Regions from separate parts of the Homo sapiens genome. Here region 1 is linked to region 2. A link means that fine-mapping ties the variant in region 2 to the expression of a gene that starts in the linked region. Tissue or cell type: whole blood. Region 2 holds a variant in brackets; the other region holds the start of a gene. All regions are shown on one strand. Distances are between the middles of the regions.

What was found. PIP is the estimated chance that this variant, and not a neighbour inherited with it, causes the effect.
Region 1: it holds the start of TSPAN5, and the variant in region 2 is fine-mapped to the expression of TSPAN5 in whole blood (TOPMed, PIP 0.90).

The regions. Positions count from the first base shown.
Region 1 is chr4:98,653,751-98,661,856 of GRCh38, forward strand. It overlaps TSPAN5 (tetraspanin 5), which reads right to left and starts at 4,861. Exons shown (of 8, transcript NM_005723.4): 1 at 4,396-4,861. The coding sequence starts at 4,476. It overlaps TSPAN5-DT (TSPAN5 divergent transcript), which reads left to right and starts at 5,152. Exons shown (of 3, transcript NR_148380.1): 1 at 5,152-5,272; 2 at 7,048-7,176. LOC112267901 (a long non-coding RNA gene) reads left to right here and starts at 4,973. Exons shown (of 3, transcript XR_939016.3): 1 at 4,973-5,122. RefSeq lists an enhancer at 1-718 and silencers at 4,426-4,585, 4,839-5,018.
Region 2 is chr4:98,467,322-98,475,427 of GRCh38, forward strand. TSPAN5 (tetraspanin 5) reads right to left here. Exons shown (of 8, transcript NM_005723.4): 8 at 3,046-5,266. The coding sequence ends at 5,201. Among named protein-coding and RNA genes, the nearest start is that of TSPAN5, 190 kb to the right of the region's middle. The variant G/A (reference allele first, on the strand shown) is at 4,665.

The DNA.
Region 1 (8,106 bases), 190 kb after region 2:
ACTACAACACCATTAATGTTATCTTTCCTTTATAAACAAGAAATTAAGGCTCAGTGCCTTAATACAGTAGACTATATTTTTCAAAGATGGCCACAACCTACATGACTTTCTGCAATGTGACCTTGACACTTCTCCATCAAAAGGTGGCTTCTAATTCTTCACCCTTTGAAATTCAGCAGTCTGCATGAGTGCTCTAACCAATGGAATAGATAAAAGTGGCACTGCCAGTTCTAAGTGGAACCTTAACTGGCTGGAAGCTTCTTTAAGACTTAGAGACAGGAAGAAGCCACGTGTAGGTAGGTGCTCCAGTGACAACTCTGGCTAAGCTCCCAGCAAGCATCAGCTTCCAGTCATATGAGTATACCATCTCAGGCATCCTGCCCAGAGGGCCTTCCGGTAAGTCCAACTCCAACTACATCTCACCACAACTGTATGAGACCCCAAGTGAGAACTGTCCAGATGAGCCTGGCCAAATCACAGAACTGTGAACTATAATAATAAACAACTGTGTTTTAAACAACTAAGCTTGGAGGTTATGTAGCAATAAATAACCAGAATATTGAGATCAATTTACTTGCCTGGGAACAGTTAAGTATCCAGAATCCAAAACAGTTAAAAGCCAGAATCCAAAAGGGCAAAACATCTATTAATGATGAGTGATGGGATGTGGTGTTCGGTACCCCAAAGAAATGACTTTAAAACAAAATCCTCTTTCTTCTCCCTCCCCCAAACCCAAAGCAGTCTCAGGGTTTTCTGAGAAATGTCCCAGTACGGTGACACCCTCAATAAAATCAATTCCCTTCTGTCTTGAATTGTTCCAATATATAACAGAGGAAACAAGTTTTCCCCCACCAGCCTGTGATAACTAATGAGAAAGGAATCTGTACAAGATGTTGACTTTGTTACTCAGAATGTCATTACAACTGTTATATAAAAGGATTCAGATTTTATACATGAAGCTGTAATTCTAATAATAAAAATATATTTAATGACTCACAGGACTACATTTGAGATTCACAGTGGGGAGAGAGAAGCACGGACACTATACCAGGAACTGAACAAGCCAAGAAGAAATTAGTGAAAGGTTTTTTGTTTTGCTTTGTTTTGTTTTTTTTGAGACGGAGTCTTGCTCTGTTGCCAGGCTGGAGTACAGTGGTGTGATCTTGCCTCACTGCAATCTCCACCTCCCGGGTTCAAGTGATTCCCCTGCCTCAGCCTCCCGAGTAGCTGGGACTACAGGCACCCGCCAACACACCTGGCTAGTTTTTTGTATTTCAGTAGGGACAGAGTTTCACCATGTTGGCCAGGATGGTCTTGATTTCCTGAACTTGTGATCCGTCCACCTCAGCCTCCCAAAGTGCTGGGATCGCAGGCGTGAGCCACCGCGCCCAGCCTTGGTTTTTTTTTGTTTTTGTTTTTTGTTTTTTGTTTGTTTGTTTTTTATGAAAGGATCTTTGAGGAAGAAATGAAAGTAATAAAACTAGTCTTCAGACAAGTCTCCCTAACAGAAAATGTCTATAATTTATCACGTGTCCTGGTATATACTACTTCTGTTATAAATTAGTGGCCAAACTCTTCTATTTTTCTTCTCCAGCATATTGGAACTCAAGAAACTCATTCTGTGTAAGAACTAGAAAGAACGTTATAACTCATCCACCTCCTTCAATTTAACAGCTGAGAAACTGAGGCCCAGGCAGTTAACTGATGAAGAGCCAAACTGCTGATCAGGAAAAGAACCAAGCTCTCAGTGCTGGTGCCACCATATGTTCAATTTTATTTTACCAGAACTATACCTTTGAATGTCACCAGTGTATGTCAAATGTAGTCTAGCAGTTCAGTGTGAAAATGAAAATTAGGAAACCATGCTGTTGGCAATCTCTTCTTCATAATTGTATGGGAGTAGCACCGAGTCTGCTGTTTTTGGCAATCACAGACAGGTTGGTGACTCTGTAGAGAGCAGAGGTGTGTAACTTTTCAGAAGCAAGCTGCCAAGCTACTGACCCCAGCTTTTCAGTCACTAACATCTTAGTCTGAATTACTTTAACCAAAACCATATGGTTGCCTTTCTGTTGATCATCACTAGAGACCATGGTACAATAAAGCAGGAAATTTAAATATGGGGTAATTTTGAGGCAGAGAGCAGGATAGGAAAGGTATGAGGGAGTATCTGAGAGGAAGGCTTTGGGCACAGAGAGGAGAGGAAGGGAAGGCAAGAGGCAGGGTAAGTGAAGGGCCCTCATAAGGAAGGCACTCACTTAACAATTCTGCCTGGGGCAGCTAGTTTAGTCCCATAGCCTAGGTCTCCTTTCAGGCTTCCCATACTCACCCACCCACCTATGAAGACCTTCACAATCAGAAAACATGCGGCTCTGTTCTGGACCTCTCCAAGCAAGCACTCTGCAATTCTTTGAAGCTCTCTACAATTCCAGGGGTTTTGCTGCAACCTAATCCATAGAAAGGGCTAAATTTGTCTCTATGCACTCCACAGAATTACAGCAAACTGTCAGGGAAACAGACCCAAATCCTTTTATTTCCTTACCACCCCCTGCTAGGAAACGGCAGAGAAAGTCCCTGGGTGCTTTTTGTTGCTGGGTAGCTAAAATGTGCAACTTTTAGAAATGTTCAAGTAGAAACAAGAGGCCTGAACTCACTACCCCAAAAAGAACCAGTCCCAGTTCGGTAGTCCGTGCCTCTCCAAGTCACAAAGTTTCAAGTTCCAATCAAATCAGAATATCTTACTCAAAACCGTGGCTACCCACCACTTTTAAACATTTTCACAAATGGAGAAGGGGCAAAGAAAGAAAATAATTCCTTCTTCCTGTACTTGTAGCAGTGTTTAATTGCAGGGAGGTGGGTGACTGCTCCCGGGAATCATGCACAACACTGGCAAAAAACTGCCTGTGGAATGATCGGATATGACATCCATTCATGTGTCCCCTCATTATCTTTATTAGTCCTGAAGACAGATGACATGCTGACACGGAAAGTGGTCTCCAATCCCTTGCATTTCCCCTCACAAAACATACATGACCAATGCAAGGTATTATAATAGAAAACAGAAAATAAAATAACCTGGTAAGAGTGCGGTACAAAAAAAGAATATGAAGAGCCGTATTGACAACTATTCTCACAGATGTATATACGTACAGCAAACAGCCCAAATTAAAGGAGAATTCAAATAAATACATTCCGTGTTCAGACTGCTGTGGATAATTATTGATCCTGCAGTTGGAGCATTGTTTACCTCACACTGAACAGCAACTTAGAGAACCCCCTACCCAGACAGCCACCATCTTTACTTTCTATGGAAATGCGGGTGCCCACTGAGGAAGAGGATGAGATGGGATGAGAAGGGGAAGAAAAATAACATGGTCTTTGAACCAACGTTTTCCCCTTGTCCTGGAGAACTCTTTGTCTGGCTGCTGAACACGTTTGCCAGATCAAGGAAAAGAATCAAAACAAACAAACAAACAAAAAGAGTAGGCGTCCCAGCCTAATTACAATAGGTTCCCAACACATTGCAGTCCCAAGCAGAGCATCATTTGAATCTTGTGTTAAAGCATTTGCTCTCTCGGTTCCCCAATAAAACATGCCTCGCACACCTTCTCCTTTGCATTTCTACAAAGGTTCCCCCAAACGGCCCGCTCTGTGTCACTCCTTTAAAAATGAGGACGTGGGGCAGGAACACACTGAAATATATGTTGACGGTGACTTATTATCCTGACGATGATATATACATACAAATAAATCCCTCTACCCCGCACCCCCACTGACCAGTCCATTACGCACAGGGAGCGCTTTCCAGCTGAAGAGGAGAGCGTGCAGGAAACGTTATTTACGTGCAATTACAGGACCATATACCACGGCATCTGCATCCTACACAAAGCCCGAGATGGTGCAAGAAGATACACGCTGAGCATGGCACAGACCAGCCGCGGCAACACGGAGCCAAGCCCTCGTCCAATCAGATCGTTGTTAGAAGGTGGACCTCAGGGTCGGCCGTGCCCGATTAGCCTTCCCTATTATGACACCACGCTCTGCCCAACATCTATATCCCACCGAGAGCAAATCCAATTCGTGTGGTTGCTCATTTCTCAAACTGCCGAACCCTTTCTTTTATCTGCATCCCTGCTATTCGTTCCTCAAAAAGCCACCAGAAGGCCTCGGTGCCCCCTTTCCGCCTCGATTTCTCTTTTCACCTCTTCCCATTCCTCGAAAGGATTAAATGTTTATCTCTCCAACGCGCAAGCTGGAAAGGCGGAAGGCGAATGCCTCTATGCTGCTCCGGCAAGCGCCTGCGGGGCTGCGAAAAGTAAAGGCAACGAACAACGTGGGGGAAATCGTCGCGAATCGATCGGCCACAATAGTTGGAATCCCAGGAGCGCTCCAACTTACCCAAAATATGACATTGAAGCCAAATATGAAGTATTTGATGCAACAACTGACTTCAGGACCCTTGTAGTGCTTCCCGGACATCCTCTGGGTTCATGAAGACACTTGCCCCGGCAGCCCGAGTTTGGAGCTCCGAAGCACCGTTGCTCGGAGCAGCCCGGCGGGGAGCAGGAGCTCAGGGACACCGCACGGGGCCGCGGCGCTGGCGGCCTGGGCTCAGCCGCGCGGGGACCGACCGGCGGAGAGCGGCTCCCGCACCTCCAGCCCCTCGCGCGCCGAGGCCGCCGGAGCCGGGGTGGCCGCGAGAAAGCAGGGAAGCCGCGCGCTGCAAGCTCAAGCCTCGCCGACGCTAGCCCCGAACACAAAGCGAGCGCCCGCGTCCGTGCGCCAGGCGGTCGGTCCGTCGGTTCGTCCCCGGGCTTCGGGCAAAGGCGGCCGCGGCAGATGCTGGTGGAGACGCCGCTCGCTTGCTCGCCCGCCCGTTCGCGCGCGCCCTCCCACCCCTCGCTCCGCCCGCCTCTCGCTCCGCCCGCCCGGCCGGCTGCTCCTCCGCCCGCGCCGCCCGCAGCTCCGCCCGCCGCCCAAGCCTTGGCTAGGCGCGCGCGCGCACGGGGTCGGGCGCTCCCGGGCGGCGGTGGCACCACGTAGCCGCCTCCTTCCACCGCTCGCTTTATCCCCGCCCCTTCTCGGGCCAACCCCAAGCGCCGCTGACCCCGAACGTCGCTGCGGGGTAGGTAGGGGGTGGGAGGGTGGAGGACCGCAGGCGAGAGGGAGAAGGAAGGGCGCCCGGGGAGCAGGCTGGCAGAGTGACCGGGATTGATGAGCGGCGCAGCTCTGGAGGGACGCGGGCGAGAGGGTCGCTCCTCGGGGAGAGGGCTGGGTGAGTGAGGACCTGCGAGCCACCCCCGACACCCCTTCCAGGGTAGCCACACTGGCGCCCCCTCCTCCACAACAGGCTTATGTGGCTAGAGAAGATGCGATGCCACTGGACAGGGAAGGAAAGTCGTCGTGGACTTCGCTGAATGGAAAAGGGGGTAGTTGGGGAAGGTGGAGAAAAGAGCCACGGGAAGTGGGAGGAAAGGATGAAGGGATGGGACGTTGAAAAGGAAAGCTTCCTGAATCCCTGTGTGACTCTAACCCAACCTCCCCACCTACCGGAGAAATGGGTTTTATCCTAGAAATGGGGACGAGGAAAAAGAGATGGCTCAAGGGAGTCCTGGCCCGGGATGCGATCCTCGCCCTAGGGTCTATTGCAACCACACAAACCCGGACAGCGCACGCTCCCCCCTACCCCGACAGAATAGTGCCTAAGAAACCTGCTTGCCTCCTAACTCTAGGAAGGAATCCACAACGGATTCCAGGGAGGTCTTCTGGGGAATCTGAATTGGGTTTTTGGATCACGAACCATTAAGCTTTTGAACTCTGGGGAAGAATAGAACAGGTGGCTGGAAATTGTTTTAGAACCCTACCTGAGCAGGTGTGCTCATTAGTTGCTTATCCGCCCTCCTCCTGGAGCACTTTCATAGGTGTTGGCAAAGCAGGTACCAGTATTTCACGGAAGGAGAAGGAAGAACCGCCCAGGACTGTGTATAAATGTCTATGGGAATATTTTTAAGGATTCAAAAGGCTAGAAGGAGGTGAGATCAAAAAATTTTTCCAGCACCACCCAGTGCAACCCGATCCTGGACACAGAAATCTAAAAGATGATACTTAAATACTTGAGTTTGAGAGCCTCTAGTTATAAGGTTTCCTACGTAACAACCTCTCACTTTTCTCAAAAACTGGCTAGTTGACAACCGGCAGTCAAGTTTTGGCTAGTCAAGAAGCTACTTTTTCCTGCAATAAACCACATTTAGAGATAGTACTGGGCTTCAGCAGGATTGAGGCTATATTGAGGTCGCAAGTATGAACGAGGTACCCACAGAGATGGGAGGGCCAGGAGATCCTACTCATTCAGTACCTCAGAAGCTATGACACGGGATAACAGTAGCTTCAGCCCTTTGGATGAAATAATCCTCACTCCCTCAAAAGTGCTCTCTACCCACTCAAAACACAGGCCATACTACCACCAATCTGGTAGACTTCAAAAGTAAGGTCTTTCAGCAGCAGATTTCCTTGTTAACAGGAAGGTACTGACAAGCTTTACCTAAGCCTATTGGAGCTATGTTGTAATTCTGTATATAAATAGAACAGTCGCTGCAGGAATACTGGATGAGTCAGAAGAAAGGTCTGTCCTAAGCTGATGTGACACATTTCAAAAGGACCAGAAATTAGATGCAATTGATGACTGAGTTGATCTCTAAGTGGATTTATCTTTGAAATAAAAATCAGTGGATATCCCATATACCCGACCCCACACCCTCCCCCATTGTCAACATCCCCAACCAAAGTAGCACATTTGCTACAAATAGTGAACCTACATTGCCAGATCATTATCACCCAAAGTCCATAGTTTACATTAGGGTTCACTCTTGGGGCTGTATATTCTATAGGGTTGGACAAATATAGAATAACATGAACCCACCCTCATAGTATCATAGTATCATACAGAGTATTTTCACTGCCCTAAAAGTCCTCTGTACACCACCTATTTATCCCTTCCTCCCCCCAGTCTCTGGCAGCCACTGAAGTTTGACTGTATCCCTGTCTCCTTAGTTTTGCCTTTTCCGGAATGCCATATATAAGGAATCATACAGTATGCAGTCTTTCTTTCAATTTTGCTGTGAAACTAAAACTGCTAAGAAAATAAAGTCTTAAAAAGAAAAATCAATGGAGAAGGGAAAGGTAAGATAACTAATCAGTAATTTGGAGGGGGGGGTGGAAAAACTAATTGAATTATCTCATTTCGTATATCCAAAATAAGTTCTATGAGGATTAAGGAGTTAAATATATTTTAAAGCAGACCAGAAGGAAAAATATTTGTCAAACCTCTGTATAGAAGTATTTCTCAACTTAGAGGCAATAGAAGGAAATAATCAATGGATATGATTGGGTAATATCTTAAACACTTCTACGTGTCCAGCTTTTTTTAGTGTAAGCTAAACCAGAAAAAAAATTGGCAGCAAACATGAAAAATAAAAACCTGAATGTCTATATTATAAGTAGGGCTCATAGAGCTATAGTAAAATATAGAATCGCAGTGGTTGAGTATAAACAGAAAATAAATCATATAAGAAATAAAATATATGGGGAAATTAATCTAGTAATAAATGAAGTATACATTAAAACTAATAAAGATACAAAAATAATGAGCACTGGTTAGCACATACATTGTTGGTGTCCTTATGAAATAATATGTCCATTTGGAAAGCATTTTGGCTGTATATATCAGGTCAGAGTGCTCCTACATTTTGACTCAGCAGTCCCTCTTCTGGGAATCTACCCAAAGAAATACCCCAGCAGATGGAAAAAGTTATACACTGCAAGATGTATATCATAGCATTATTTATATTGAAGACTTGGCCAGAAATTAAAGATCAAAGAGTAGGGGTGATATCCAATTCCTTGTAGTTACTTGGACCACAATGTTCCTTCACATTCTGTGCCTCTGCACATGTCATTTAGAGTTTCTGCCTGGGGCATTCTCCTTGTCTCTTGTCTGTGAGCTGATTTCTCTTATTCTTCACTACTTTTGTTCAATGTCTCGGAGGCTCCTTCTTTATTCCCTCAACACCCGCTGTGTTCTTCCATCCCGGCACTTAAAGGCTGCCTGTA
Region 2 (8,106 bases):
CAGCCCCATTGAGGACACCTTTAGGACAGTGCCTCTGCCTGGAAGATGAGCAGCTTTAGGCAGTCACCATCGTCGTCTAGAAACCACATTTGAAAACTGGTGGGAGGACAAGGCCCAGCTCCATCCTGCCGCGATAAACTCCCAGCAGCAAGATCCCAAGCAGGATAGATGGTGATGGGAGCAAAACGTCCTGTTCTCTCATCTTTCCAAAACAAGCCTTGCCATTTTCAGGAGCGTGTAAAGGAAATAAAACACCTACCCGCCCTAAGCAGGCAACATAAGCTGTGTACCTTCAAGTTTCTCCAAAGCACAAGCGCCTCTGAACATACAGTGTTTTTATCCCTGAACTATTCCAACTCCAGTCCGGAGTGGTTTTACGCAGTCGACACTAGAGGGCAGGCCATTAAAACGTTCCCGTTCAAACGAGTTGCTCTGCAAATGCAAGAGCTGACACAGCACCTGAAGGTCCGCTCCGTATCTGAAAAGTAGCTTTCCCCCACGGAGAATGCAAGCGTGCGTTCGGTATGGGGCAAGAGCGTGGGAAGCCTGCTACTGCTTTCCTTTCGGGGCATATTTACAGTGAAAGCCCGTGAACTCGCCTGCTCTTCCCTTAGATTTACTTTACTTGGGAATTCCTAGAAGTGGAAAAATAAATCACAATGGCCAGTGCGGGTCCCCAGAGGTTTAGCCCCGGCTAATGGATAACAGGAAGGGACTAAATCAGCCTCCTCTCACCAGCGGCAAGTTTACAAGAGAACCACTCAGCATGAAAACGCCAAAGCAAGCTGTACTTAATCCCTCAAGAAGTCCTAAAAACTGTAATTTTATTAAGTTAGAGACAGGGTCTTCCTCTGCCAACCAGGATGGAGTGCAGTGGTGCGATCATACTTCACTCCTGGGCTCAAGCTGTCCTCCTGCCCCAGCCTCCAGAGTCGCTGGGAGTACAGGTGCATGACGCCAGGTCCAGCTAATTAAAAAAAATTTTTTTTTTCATTTTTTTAAGACACGGGGTCTTGCTATGTTGCCCAGGCTAATCTTGAATTCCTGTCCTCAAGCAATCATCCTGTTTTGGCCTCCCAAAGTGCTGGGATTACAGGTGTGAGCCAGCCACCTTGTCTGGCCTAAAACTGTAATTTTATAAACTCTTTGTGGCAAACCCCTCCAAACAAAAAGGCTCGGGTGAGTGTAAGGATGGCTTTGCTCCAAGTTCAGAGTTTGGCTTCTCCGCCGTGCTCCCTGCCCCCACCCACCCCCCCACCCCCATCTGACTGCCTTGTCTGTTATCATGTGTAGATTTTCTATGGATTTTATTGTGTCATCATGATAAAGCCAATGTTAATGTATTTTTCAGGCAAATGCTGCATTTTCCTCCTCAAAGACTAGGCTTCTCACTCTGGAATTGGGCAGCACCTAGAAGCAGCCCCATGGCCTCACTGGAGAGAGCTCTGGCCATGAAACCCTGCTGGCCAGCGTTTATAGAGGGCTTCCCAGTTCTTCATTGGAGGTCTAAACAGGATTTCCCTAGAGAAGGAGGGCTTCGTGGAATAAATGACAAAGGGAGTTGGGGTGGCCTGCCAGGTCACTGGGCTCCAGCTCCTCATTGTTCAGCCCACAGGCTTCCCAGGGCGCCTGTCCAAGCCAGCCGGAAACAGACGAAACTGCAAAATCACTCCATTCCTGCCCACACAAACACGGGGAAATGAATGATCACTTTGCACAAGAAACCTCCAAGAGACACTTTGAGGATCCCCTTGAGGAAAGGACAACTGGGACCTGTGGCAGGAAGAAGGCTGAAAGAAAAGTCCAGGTTTATTACTCCCTGGGAGAAGGAAGAGGAAGAACAAAGGAAATGCACTTCTTTAAGTACTTCATGATGCAAAATATTTTTAAATTCCTGAGTTCACATTTAAAAACTGTATATTTTTAAATTATAGGAGCAATGATGTTAGTGGTAACCAGCCCAACAACAGAAATAAAGAGAAATTTAATAAGCTTCCCCTAAAGTCTACCTTCTACACATTGAAGAAACTTCCTCCAAGTTTTTGAGTTTTATAGACAAAGCATCCTTTTACTTCTGAGCTGTCATTTTTTTTTCCTTTGTTGGCTTATAGTTTGCAACAAGCAAAGAGGGCCAATGTAGACAATAAGAAAACTCAAGAAGCAGGGATTGGCCATCTCCAATCATCACTGATAAATTTCCTTAAAATCAAAATAACGTTGTTTCAAATATCTGAGATATGAGGCAAAACGTTTCTTGAACAAGTCTGACACTATGTTGTCAGGATCTAAGTGTGCTATATGAACCTTAAAATTTGTTTTCATTTGATCTTTGAAAAAAGTATTTAATCAGTTCTAACGACGGAAGTCTTCTTCTGCAGTGATAATTCACAATGAAAGACATTTAAGCTGACGTTTCTCTAATGGGTTTTTAAGATTCCAGCTCCAAGGGACTGTGAGAAATTATTTTCTTATATAAAAGGTTGTGAATATTATCAACATTTATCTAAGCCCATAAGTCATAAATCCCACCAGGCATTAAATTTTCAAGGGAGCTTTTAAAACATAGATTACCCTGTCTCCCACTCCAGAACTGCTAGGGGTAAGGTCTGGGGAATCTGTATTTCACATGGTCCCCAAGTGATTGTAACCAGCAGATGACCTCATGGGCAGGGATTTCCTACATACGAGGCTCTGGCCTCTGTGTCTTGTCAGTCAGCATTTTTAAGTACAAAGGAACCTTTCCCTTCCCAACTACAAAATCTTACCTTTCTGTTTCCCCTCCTAGAAAACTGGATCAGAACAATGCTTCTCAAAGTGTAGTCCCCAAACAAGCCGCAAACAGCATCACCTACGATCTTATCAGAATACAAATTCTCCAGCCCCACCCCAGACCTACTAAGTTAGAAATTATGGGCACGGAGCAAATGCATTCATGTGTTTTAACAAGTCCTCCCAGTGATTCTGACACCTGCTAAAGTTTGAGAACCACTGGATTCGAAAATTTCACAATTTCAAGAAAGAAGTAATGAAGAAAGACACACCATGTAAGGTAGAACCAAGTTTATTAATGACAGCCTTTATTACAATCACTCTCAAGTGTAAAAAATAAAGGGTGATTAATTAATATTTAAAACTCACTCGGACTTGCTGTTTGGCCTTTCAGTGGATGTGCCAAAGGGCAGGGATCTTGCCTGATTCTGAATCAATTGGCCAGATGGAGTTCACTGGAGAATGAGGCAATCAACAAAAAAGACAAATGATGCCAACTGGAGAGAGCTCGTGTCTTCTCCATGTTGGAAGGACATTACAAAATGGCAACTGTGGTGGGGGCAGAGATGAAGTAAGACAACCTTACAGTCGGAGTAAGATGTGAATACCTCTACCTATACAGAGACAAAAACACACACATGCAGAGCCATACACACACCCAAACAGTGAACACAGTTTTGAAAATAATTTCCTTTTTGTCCTTTCTCTGAGCAGACTGACACATTCATCGGCCACCACCATGCACCATGGGGCTGAAATGGAAAACCTCGCTTAATTTCCACAAAGTATTCTAGCTGGCTGCCCAGTTATGTGCTGGCAAATCTGTCCGCACCGAAAAATGTGCCTGTGGTTTTCCCAGAGTTCCACAGACTGATATCTGCTCCCCAGGAGGGCAACATCCGGTGGACACCAGCTGGATTAAAATCTAGAGGGCAAAACTCGTCCCTCCCACCTAAAGTGGGGGCAGGAGCGGCAGCACCAGGAAGTGGTTTCCCACTTTGTGTTACAGAGTACTTGCCCCAGTTCAACGCATTCCCCTCCAAAGTATTTGTGCTTTGATACCATCCTGATGGTTAGTCTGCAATAAGAGAACTGAAGGAGCTATGGCCATGCACTATTTTCTTTTTTTAATAAAAGCAAACTAAAACTGGAGGAAGAAAAAGAAACCATTAGAAGCTTTTGACTGGGTCAATGTTGTTTCCAAATTGGGTTTAATTCCATTCAAAGAGAAAGAAGGGGAGGGTGCAGAAAAGGCCACTCAGATCGACTCTGGAAGAGATCATCAAGACCAGGGAAGCATTTGGATGGTACAGCTGGTCTCTTCCCAGCCAGACTGGGAGGACATGCCACAACCTCCCAAGGCTGTGAACCTAGGAAATAAGTGCTGACCAAATAACATATTTCAATGTTTGTAGAAAAGCTGGCAGGAAAGGGAGATGATGGATTCAGATTCACAGGTCATGCAGATTAAGACTTAATCAAAAATTAATGCTTGAGCTGAGTAAGAAAACACTAAAATTTAAGTGGAACTGTATCATAGCTTTCACCTTTGGAAGACGAAAAACAACAAACATACAAAACAAAATGACCCAGAATATTCCAGAGTTTCCAAAAATCCAACTGCTAATTTTGGCAGGGTGAGAAGAAGGGGATATTTAACTGATACCTCTTCATTAACCTCATTTTCTCCTTGAATTTCACTGATAAACAAAGCTCAGGTCTACTTAGAAAAACGATCAGTCCTGCTAAAATACAGCCTCATGACGTCTTCCAATGCCCTTGCTCGGTGCACATGAAATACACAACTTCTCTTATAAGGAGACTTTCCAGGATAGACCAAGTGTGCTCGCCCAAGTGACTTGCTGAATACCATCACAAAATCTGAACCCAAAGAT[G/A]AGTTGTTTTCTTCTTCAGATGAGAGTTGCAAGTGTTTCCTAAAATGTACATGGAGGGATGCCCACAAACCACTGCCCTCCCAGGTGAGGGGCTGAGTCTTTGAGGAGATGCACTCCTTCAGGCCATGGAACAGAAAGAAGGTGGTCCGTCCAAGGTGTGGTGAAGAGCAAAGCTGCCTCTCCCAGCCCTCCAATTACGGAAGATGAGGACAAGAATGTATTTTCTGCACATTCAAGTACATCTGGGTCCCCTACCCTCCCTTTTTTTCTTTTTTGGTAAGCATCTAACTGTCCATAAATTCATGGCTACAGTAGAGATTCACGGCGCAACGACTTTCATACTGGTTATTTTTTTTTTTAATTCTGTCAGTGAGCAGCATTTCCCAGTTTTACACTCCCCTAATGGCAGCTCCATTAGGCGAGACTGCAGGCTGCATCTGTGATTAGGTCCATGCAGCTCGAAGATCAGTTCGGCACGCGGGAGGGTCCCGAAAGCTGGGTCTGTCCAGTGTCTTGCAGCAGCGGTTGCAGGGGGTCTACCAGCTCGCCCTGACAGCTTCGATATCGCTAACCAAATTCTGGGCCAGGCATATCCCAAATATCTGAGAAAGGAAGAAAATGTGAGTGAAACAGTGACACTTGTAACTTGTTTCCCTGGCCACTGTGTCCCATTTTTTTAAATCATTGATTTTTGAAATTTAAGATGTAATTCATATGTGGTAAAAAGCATCCTTGAAATGTGTATAATTCAGGGGCTTTTAGTATATTCACAAAGCTATGCAACTATCACCACTATCTAATCACAGAACATTTCATTACCCCAAAAAGAAACCCTGTACCTGTGAGCAGTCATTCCCATCCCACCATCCCTACAGACCTAGCAACCACTAATCTACTTCCTGCCTCTGTGGATTTGCCTCTTCTGGACATTTCATATCAAGGGAATCATATAATATGGGGCTTTTGTGGCTGTCTTTTTCATGTAGCAAAATATTTTCAAGGTTCATATACATGTGCTATTAATTTATTCCTTTTGATGGTTGAATGATATTCCATGGCATGGATATGCCCCATTTTGTTTATCTACTCCTCAGTTGATGTGTATTTGCATTGCTCTCACATTTTGGCAATTATGAATAATTCTGCTATGAACATGAGCATACAAGTTTTTGGGTAAACACTTTCTCAATTCTTTTGGGTACTCCTCTAGGAGTAGAATTGCTGACTCATATGGTAGCACTATATTTAACTTTTGAGAAACTGCTAAATTGTTTCCCAAAGAGGTTGCAACATTTTCATTTCCATTAGCAACATATGAGGGTTTCGTTTTCTCCACATCCTTGCCGATACTTGTTATTGTCTGTCTTTTTTATTCTAACCGCTTTAACGAGTATGAAATATGTGGCTTTGAATTGCATTTCCTTAATGACTACTGACGTTGGCATCTTTTCATGTGCTTATTAGCCATTTTTTTTTTTTTTTTTTGAGACGGAGTCTCGCTCTGTCGCCCAGGCCGGACTGCGGACTGCAGTGGCGCAATCTCGGCTCACTGCAAGCTCCGCTTCCCGGGTTCACGCCATTCTCCTGCCTCAGCCTCCCGAGTAGCTGGGACTACAGGCGCCCGCCACCGCGCCCGGCTAATTTTTTGTATTTTTAGTAGAGACGGGGTTTCACCTTGTTAGCCAGGATGGTCTCGATCTCCTGACCTCATGATCCACCCGCCTCGGCCTTTATTAGCAATTTTAATCTTTAGAGAAATGTCTGTTCAGATCCTCTGCCCGTATTTTTGTTTGTTTGTTTGTTTTTTAATAATTTAAGGGACTGGGTTTTGCTCTGTTGCCCAGGCTGGAGTACAGTGGCGTGATCATAGCTCAGTGCAGGCTCCTGCCTCTGCTTCCCAAGCAGCTGGGATTACAGGGACAAGTCACCATGCCTGGCTGCCCATTTTTAAGTTGTTTGTCTTTTTATTGTTGACTTTTTAAAGTTCTTTATTTTTCTAGATACTAGGAGTTATCTTTTCACTGTCTTGATGGTATCATTTTCAGCACAGTTTTAAATTTTGAAGTCCAATTTATTTACATTTGTTTCATTGCTTATGCTTTTGATGTCATATCTAAGAAGACACTGCTTAATCCAAAGTCACAAATATTTATGCCTATGTTTTCTTCTGGAGTTCTATAGCATTAGCTCTTATATTTAGGTCTTTGCTTTATTTTGAGTTAATTTTTACATATGGTGTGAGTTAGTCTAAATTCATTATTTTGCATATCTAGTTTTCCCAGTACCATTTGTTGAAATGACTGCTCTTTCCCTATTGAATGGTTTTGGTTCCCTTGTCAAAAATCAACTGACCATATACGTACGAGCTTATTTCATCTTCTTTTTTGAGATAGGATCTTGCTCTGTCACCCAGGCTGGAGTGCAATGGCATGATCTCAGCTCACTGCAACCTCCCAGGCTCAAGTGATCCTCCCTCCTCAGCCCCCCAAGTAGCTGGGACCACAGGCATGCGCCATCATGCCCAGCTAACTTTTGTATATTTTGTAGAGACAGGGTTTTGTCATGTTGCCCAGGCTGTTTTGAAACTCCTGAGCTCAAGTGATCCACCTGACTCAGCCTCCCAAAGTTCTGGAATTACAGGCATGAGCCACTGCACCCGGCCTTATTTCTTCTTTTTAATCATATATATTTTTTTCTTATTTTTTTGAGACAAGGTCTTGCTCTGTCACCCAGGTTAGAGTGCAGTTGCATAATCACGACTCACTGCAGCTTCAACCTTCTGGGCTCAAGCAATCCTCCCACTTCAGCCTGCTGAGTAGCTAGGACCACAGGCATGTGCCATTACATTTGGCTAATTTTTTTATTTTTACTTTTTGTAGAGACAAGGACTTGCTATGTTGCTCAGGCTGGTCTTGAACTCCTGGGCTCAAGCCATCCTCCTGCCTTGGTCTCTCAAAGTGCTGGGATTACATCCATGAGCTACCACACCTGGCCTGGTTTTATTTCTTGATTTTTCAATTTTATTCCACTTCTCTATATGGCTAATCTTACTCAAGTACACACTATGTTGATTACTATATAGCTTTGTACTAAGTTTTGAACTGGGTAGTGTGAATTCTCCAACTTTGTTTTACTTTTGCAAATTTGTTTTGGCTATTATGGGTCCCTTGCTTTTCCATATGAATTTTAGGATCAGCTTGTCCATTTTTGCTAAAAAGGTGGTTACAATTTTGATAGGGATTACACTGAATCTGTAGATCAACTTGATGAGTGTTGTTACCTTAATAATATGAAGTTTTGCAATTGTGAACACAGGATATCTTTATATTTACTTAGGTCTTCTTTAATTTGTTTCAACTATGTGCTCTTTGGAAAGTATCACACCAACAACATGAAGAGTCCAGCTCTTAAGACTGGCCAGGAGGAAAAGTGGGTGCTCCCT